Linked DNA regions of Homo sapiens. The protein of the gene in region 1 interacts with the protein of each later gene in a pairwise test. Each region holds a gene or a part of one and is shown on either strand. Other genes may lie near its edges.

The links.
Region 2: the proteins of KIF9 (region 1) and CYTIP interact in binary tests that used the Homo sapiens proteins (3 or more experiments, as listed by UniProt).

Annotation. Positions count from the first base shown.
Region 1 is NC_000003.12:47,280,970-47,284,720, forward strand, and holds the start of KIF9 (kinesin-like protein KIF9), read right to left. Parts: upstream 1,831-3,751; 5' UTR 1,624-1,830; coding exon of another isoform or gene 1,526-1,623; exon of another isoform or gene 1,171-1,525; intron 227-1,170; exon of another isoform or gene 20-226; coding exon of another isoform or gene 1-19. Other genes in the region: KLHL18 (kelch-like protein 18), read left to right, coding at 1,997-2,125. UniProt on the Homo sapiens protein: Essential for normal male fertility and for progressive motility of spermatozoa.
Region 2 is NC_000002.12:157,437,425-157,441,175, reverse strand, and holds part of CYTIP (cytohesin-interacting protein), read left to right. Parts: intron 1-84; exon of another isoform or gene 85-1,900; intron 1,901-3,751. UniProt on the Homo sapiens protein: By its binding to cytohesin-1 (CYTH1), it modifies activation of ARFs by CYTH1 and its precise function may be to sequester CYTH1 in the cytoplasm.

The DNA.
Region 1 (3,751 bases):
CATTCTTACGTCGCTTCATTTGAGTGGGTTTCAGTTCCCAAAATTAAATTACAAGCTGCTTGAAGGCAAGGATTGTGCTTTTTATCTCTTTTGAATCCCCTCACAATGTCCAGGGCAGAGCCCAGCACAGAGTAGGTATTCAGGAAATGGCGGTGGTTGGTGATGGTAATGGCTGGAAGTCAGAGGGCAGCTGAATCTTCATATGTGGGTCTATCTTCAGTCACTACTGAGAGAGTCCCAAGGGGCATATGATGTCACTCCCCTTCCATGACAACTCCAACCAAAGCCCACAGCCCTTCCAGGAGGACACTTGGTTTCCAGGTGCAAAAATCCACATCCAGCACCTCACCACACGCTTTTTTTGTTTTTGTTTTTGTTTTTTGTTTATTTGTTTTTGTGACAGGGTCTCACTCTGTCACCTAGGCTGGAGTGCAGTGAAACAATCTCGGTTCACCGTAGCCTCCACATCCTGGGTTCAAGCGATCCTCCCACCTCAGCCCCGCAAGTAGCTAGGACTACAGGCGTGCACCACCACGCCCGGGTAATTTTTGTATTTTTCGTAGAGACAGGGTTTCGCCATGTTGCCCAGGCTGGTCTTGAACTCCTGAGCTCAAGCAATCCGCTCACCTCAGCCTCCCAAAGTGCTAGGATTACAGGCGTGAGCCACGGCGCCCGGCCCCCTCCCTTTCTCCCTCAGGACCTTGTGGGGAATGTCTCTCCTTGGGGAACCACCCTTTGATATTTCTGGTATAACAAAGCAAGTCTCTGAATGGCCACCAGGAGACTTCTGTGTTAAGGCGCTCGAGGTTTCCTCATTTGTCTTTAGTGGGAATGAACAGAATTGGCAACAAGCAGCCATGAAGACTAGACAAGAGGAAAGGGAGCGTTTGGTGGGGTGGAAGGCACCAGGTGGGTCCCTATCTTCCAGTGCTCCCGTCCAGATGAGGGGCTGTCATGGGGAACCCTCATAGCTACCCGTAGCGGCAGCACCAACACCCGAATCCAAAACACTGGGTCCAACTGCACCTGGCCTTGGCTGAACAAGACTAGGATGCAGGCAAAACTAGACTTTCTCCTTTTTCTCACCCAATGTGCCGGACCCCCGCGTGGAGCCTGGGCGGCAGTGGGCTTTGGACCCATTCCGGTCCCTCTCTGGAGAGGTTTCCTCACCTGTAACACGAAGGGCTCCGACTGGTGATCCCAAAGCCCCCTCTAGTTCGAAAACTGACTAGTACGGAAGAGTCCAGACGACCTCTGGCTCCCTGCCTCACGGCCTCTATGTCCTGGACGCGACGTGGGACCCCTTTGTGGGACCAATGAACATTAGCTCCGAAGACCGTAAGCCGCGGTCAGGTTGAAAGGACTCCCGCGACGTCGAGCCCTCCTTCGCCTGGGTTTCAGAGATGAGCGACCCAGCTGGGAACCCCCAGATAAAGCGGTTTTTGGACCCCAGCCACTTTCAGCAGTCCGGGCGCACACCCTTTTCCCGTCTCCCCACTCCCACCGGCGAGCAGCCCCTGCTCACCGTTCACCAGGCAGCGACGCTCCCGGGACGCGACTGCCGCAACCGAAACCACCTGCACTCCCCACGCGGGGCTGCCTGGCTGTGTACATAGTCGCCATGGCAACGGGTCGCTTCCGGGGATTCCGGAAGTGTCGGGGTGGCGGAAATGAAGTCCGAGGTCCTACGTCGAGGATACGGGTGAGGTCATGGCCGAATCGGGAAGACGAGAGATGGGGCCGATTGATCTAGAAAGACTTCGGCGGATGCACATGCGAAGTCAAGGTCGAGATAGCGAGGGAACGAAGGCCGCACATGAACCAGGAAGCGGAGTGGCGGGGCTTCCGGCGCCGAGGAGATTCAACTACGGCGGCCGCGGAGGCCCGTCCGATTGCTGCTCCGCGCTCCGAGCGGCTGTCGGCGTGCGCTATCGCCCCGCCCTGGTTAGTGTCTAGCCGGCCGGCGAGGCCTGCGCAGTTGCAGCGGCCGGGGAAGATGGTGGAGGACGGCGCGGAGGAGCTGGAGGATCTGGTGCACTTCTCCGTGTCTGAGTTGCCTAGTCGCGGCTACGGCGTCATGGAGGAGATCCGGCGGCAGGGCAAGCTGTGCGACGTGACCCTCAAGGTACCGCGGACTGGGCGGCAGCGGGCTGAGGGAAAAGGGGTCGAGCGGGGAGTAAAAAGGGGCGGGGGACAGAGAAAGAGAGGTCTAGCAGGGAGAGGGGTGGGGAGAAGAGGTGTGAGGGGGGCCGAGTAGTGGGGAGAGAGGTGCCGAGCAAAAGGGGATCGGGGCCGAGTGGGGAGAGGAAGAGGACAACCTTTCAGCCCTTGAAAGGAAAGGTTGAGAGGTGCGCCGCTTAGGCCCTTGGAGTGGGAGACACGGGTGACAGCCTCCTTTTTCTGTCATGCAGACAAGAGAAAATGGACTTACCTTCTATGGAGGCAGGGGCGGTGGCCGGCTCCACATGCTGATGGGCACCACTGAAGAACCTTCTCTTGTCACTACAGATATTTCTTTGTGCCTGTCGAACTTGGCTGTGCTGTTCTAGAAGAGAAGGCTTCTCCTTAGGAATCATTGCCCTTAATTGTTGAATTACTACTTTGTCTCTTAAGAGCTTTTAAAATCTTCTCTGGAAAATTTTTGAGGTGGGAAGCCACCCTGCCCCATACTGGAAGGCACCACTCACCACCACAAAGGTCCCCGGGGCTGGGCCTGCTGGCCGCGTGGGGAGAGGGATGCTGACTGATATTAAGAGGGAAAGATATCTTAACCACCTGTTCCCCACCAGCATTCTGGTCGCTAGAGCCAGCCTCCCTCCTGTGCCTGGGTCTTTTCATGAGGAAGAGGCATGCTGTGCTGCTGCCTGGCCAAGCCACCGAACCATGTGGAGACGTCCGGTTGGGGAGATGATCAGTGGGGCTCCCTGTTGGGCTTTAGCTGGAAAGCTCTCAGCATCTGTGCGTGATCCCTGTTTAAAAAACAAACAGGGCAGGCATGGTGGCTCACACCTGTAATCCCAGCACTTTGAGAGGCGAGAGGATCACTTGAGTGGGGGAATTGGAGACCAGCCTGGGCTATGTAGGGAGACCCTGTCTCTACAAATAATAAAAAATTGTCTGGGCATGGTAGCCTGTGCCCGTAGTCCCAGCTACTCAGGAGGGTGAGGTGGGAGGATCGCTTGAGCCTAGGAGGTCAAGCCTGCAGTGAGTTGTAATCACACCACTGCACTCCAGCCTGGGCAACACAGCAAGATCCTATTTCTCCTATTTCTCTCTGTCTCTCTCACACACACACACACACACAAATAAATAAATAAAAGAAAAAATAAAACTATGCAGAGATTCTTTTGCTCTTCTTTTCTTTTTTCTTTTTTTTTTTTTTTTTGAGACGGAGTCTCGTTCTGTTGCCCAGGCTGGAGTGCAGTGGCGCTATCTTGGCTCACTGAAACTCTCTCTCCTGGGTTCAAGCGATTCTCCTGCCTCAGCCTCCCCAGCAGCTGGGACTACAGGCGCGCACCACTACCCCTGGCTAATTTTTTCTATTTTTAGTAGAGACAGGGTTTCACCATGTTGCTCAGGCTGGTCTCGAACTCCTGAGCTTCAGCAGTCTGCCTGTCTCGGCCTCCCAAAGTGCTAGAATTACACGCGTGAGTCACCGCGCCCAGCCTGCTCTTCTTATTTTCTACATGGTTAAGGAAACTTTTCTTCTGCAACATAGTTGAGTCAGACCTCTGGAGATGGTAGAGTAGGA
Region 2 (3,751 bases), on another chromosome or scaffold:
GACGTCAACAGCTCATACTTCTTGTTGTTGTTGGCTTTGGTTTCTGCAAAGCTATATCTGGTTAGCTTGTAGTTTCAAATTATTAGTCTTCAGAATCAATTGGGTGTTTACATTCAGAATTATTTAAAGATAGATTTCTCTGTGTGCATATTATCTCACTACCTGTACTGATAGGAAGTGTCAGACACCCCAGTATGGCTTCTACTTGTGAACACAGTTTTAGGACAAAAAAAAAAAATCTTTGCAATGGAAAGCTCGGTAGGAAGGAGACAGGAGGAATTAAGGACAGTCTCTATCAATGATGTCAAAGAAGTAGTGATTGTCTTACCACCCACTCTCATAAATGTAGTACGTTGCTTTTGGAAAGCAGTTTTTACAGAATGCTATAGTGAGAACCAGGGACCTGACAAACAAGTCCACAAACTTCAGTGGTACCACAGACTGACTCTCTTTTCCTAATTTTCTTTTAGTTATCACATTATTGCTAAATAGGCAACTTCTGGCAGGCTGATTTCATCTATAAGTTCAGATAGGGAATGTGTGCTCTGCTCTGGGATGTGTACACTGCTGGGCTGGGCTCTGCCCTGCAGGAGCTTTCACGGTGTGTCCGGCAGCACACCCATCAGGTGCCGTAACTCCCAATTGTCCTGAACTACACCAAAGGATTTTAATCACCTCATGACAATTTTAGGTAGAAAACTGTGCTAATTTCACTAGAAAAGACTTTGAAAATTATTCTTTAATCTGTATTGTGGCATGCATGGTCAATATCCAATAATTTTTCTTGAAGAGTCTGTGAGCCCACCATCAGACCTTACTTGGAAATGGCGGTATTGTATTTCGGTTTCTCCGGGCACTTAACGTCAGGAAATTAAGTTCAGCTCCATTATTTTGTTGCATCTTTGAATAGTCTGTGGAGCGTTGATATCCTAATGCTCCTTATTTAAAAGTGGGTGGGAGTTGCATGGAAGAATTGGGGAGTGAGGCAGGGGACTGGAAAGGGAGCAGAGCACATAATTTTGGGGCCTTTGAAACAAGTAACAGTGACAAAAAACCTCACTCTGGAATCAGTAACCTCTCCCCCGCACCCTCCCCAACACTTTCAGGAGATGAGTATATAGAGTGGGGACCAGGAGGAAGTAACCTCTGTAACCCAGAAGTGGCTAAAGTGTTGAACTTTGAGCTTCTCTAAGGAGAGCTGGCTATCTGGCTGAGCTGCCAAGTACTCCTGTCTTTCAGAAATTGACAGCTGAAGTATTTGGTCTTGGTTTCCCACTGAAGAGGAATGTGTAGAATCACTGCAGAGCAGAAGAAATTAAATTTTGAATATTAATGCCTGATCTTTTAAGTTATCTGACTAAAAACAGAAGAGTGATCATAAGCCCAACCCTAGGTATCAGTGTATTATGGCTAGCAAGGAGTTAAGAAGCTTTGTCTATTCAGCAGTCATAATTGAATGTGTAGTTTGCAAGCCTGCCAAATTGCTAAACCTAGATTTCTCATATTAGATAATGTGTAATAAAAGACAGCTGTTGCCAGCATATGCTGTGAATTGCACACCAGTTCCTCATTCATGATTTTTGGCGCCATCACTACAACCCTTAGAAAAGGCTCTGACTGGAGGGCTGTCTGGGGAACATAGACCCCACTGGTCAGATCCTTGAATAAGGCTGCTCGCCCTAGGGAAAGCGGGGCAGGAAAGACTTTTTTTTTTTTTCAAAGTGCAAAACCCTTGATAAGACCTTAGACACACTTCATTTCACTTTAGGCAGGTAGTTTGGTGTGTGAGCTAGTTTCGAACCCTGGGAACATTCCTTTCCACATCGCCTGAGTCTGACAGCCCGGATCAAAAACAAGCAGGCTTTGTGTCAAGACGTGGCACGTGTCAGAGAATTTGACGGTACTTAATTTATTTAAATTGTTTTTTGTTTAAGTGTTAGATGCTTGAAACAGCCTCTTAGCTAATACCGAATGGAAACTAATTTGTAATTTGACTTAATCTGACTTTTGGTGTTGCTGATAACCCAAATTAGTCAGTCCACAGGAACTGAAAATCTGCTATGCTTCTCATGTTGTGCTAGACAAATATTTTCATCTTTAACTAGTCAATTAGCTAGATAGAAAGGTTAGAAGTAGAGTGGTGGGGGAAATATCTATAGAGGCTTCAGGTCTGTCCTGTGGTTTAAAAGATTTTACATTTGAATCTATCCAGAATGACTTTTGATTCAAAAGACCGATTGGATGAAATCTTGAAGTTCCTAATAGATGCACTGATTTCCGGCATACTAAAAGGGTATTTAAAATTGACAAGGCTCAAAATTTTACTAATAATTTATTAATTCTTGCCACCATTCATCCACTTAGCAGCTATGTACTAAGGCACTACTATCTTTGTTTTCTGTTAGTACTTTTTCTGCATTTCTTGTTTCGGATTGAATTTTTTTTTTTGTTCTTGTCTGTTTTCTTTCATTTAAAATTTTTTGGTTTTTAAAATTTGTACTTATTCAGTTGATATATAATCATACATACTCATGGTATACATAGTGATGTTTTGATACGTGGAATGTACAGTGATCAGATCAGAGTAATTAGCATATCCATCACCTCCCTCACACAATGATCATTTCTTCATTTTGGGACTGTTGAATATCCTCCTTCTAACTATTTGAAACTAGTACATGATATACTATTGTTAACTATAGTTAGCCTACAGTATAGAGCACTAGAACTTATTCTTCCTATCTAGCTGTAATTTTTTATCCTTTAACAAGTGTGTCCCTATCCATTTCTTCCCCCAACCCTTCCCAGCCTCTAGTATCCTCTGTTCTACTTTTTACTTCTATGAGATCAACTTTTTTTAGCTTCCACATATGAGTGAGAACATGTGGTGTTTAACTTTCTATTCCTGGCTTATCTCACTTAACATAATGTCTTCCAGTTCAATCCATGTTGCTGTGAATGACAGGATTTCATTCTTTTTTATGGCTGAATTGTATTCCATGGTGTATATATACCACATTTTCTTTATCCATTCATCTGTTGTTGGACACCTAGGCTGATGCCATCTCTTGGCTATTGTGAATAGTGCTGTAATAAACATGGGAGTGCAGATGTCTCTTCGATATAATGATTTCCTTTCCTTTGGATGAATTCCCAGTAGTGGGATTGCGGGATCATATGGTAGTTCTATTTGTAGTTGTTTGAGGGACCTCCATACTGTTCTCCATAGTGGCTGTACTAATTTACATTCCCACTAACAGTGTATGAAAGTTCCCTTTTCTCCTTATCCTCACCAGCATTTATTATTTATTGTCATTTTGATCATAGCTATCCTAACTGGTGTGAGATGATACCTCATTGTGGTTTTAATTTCCATTACCCCAATGATGAGTGATATTGAGCATTTTTTCATATATTTGTTAGCCATTTGTATGTCTTCTTTTTCTTCCTTTCTTTTTTTTTTTTCTTTTTTTTTTTGAGATGGAGTCTCACTCTGTCGCCAGGCTGGAGTGCAATGGCATGATCTCAGCTCACTGCAACCTCCGCCGCCCGGGTTGAAGCGATTCTTCCAACTCAGCTTCCCTAGTATCTGGGATTACAGGCACCTGCCATCATGCCTGGCTAATTTTTGTATTTTTGTAGAGACGGGGTTTTACCATGTTGGCCAGGCTGATCTTGAACTCCTGAGCTCAGTTGATCCACCCTCCTTGGCCTCCCAAAGTGCTGGGATTACAGGTGTGAGCCACCATGC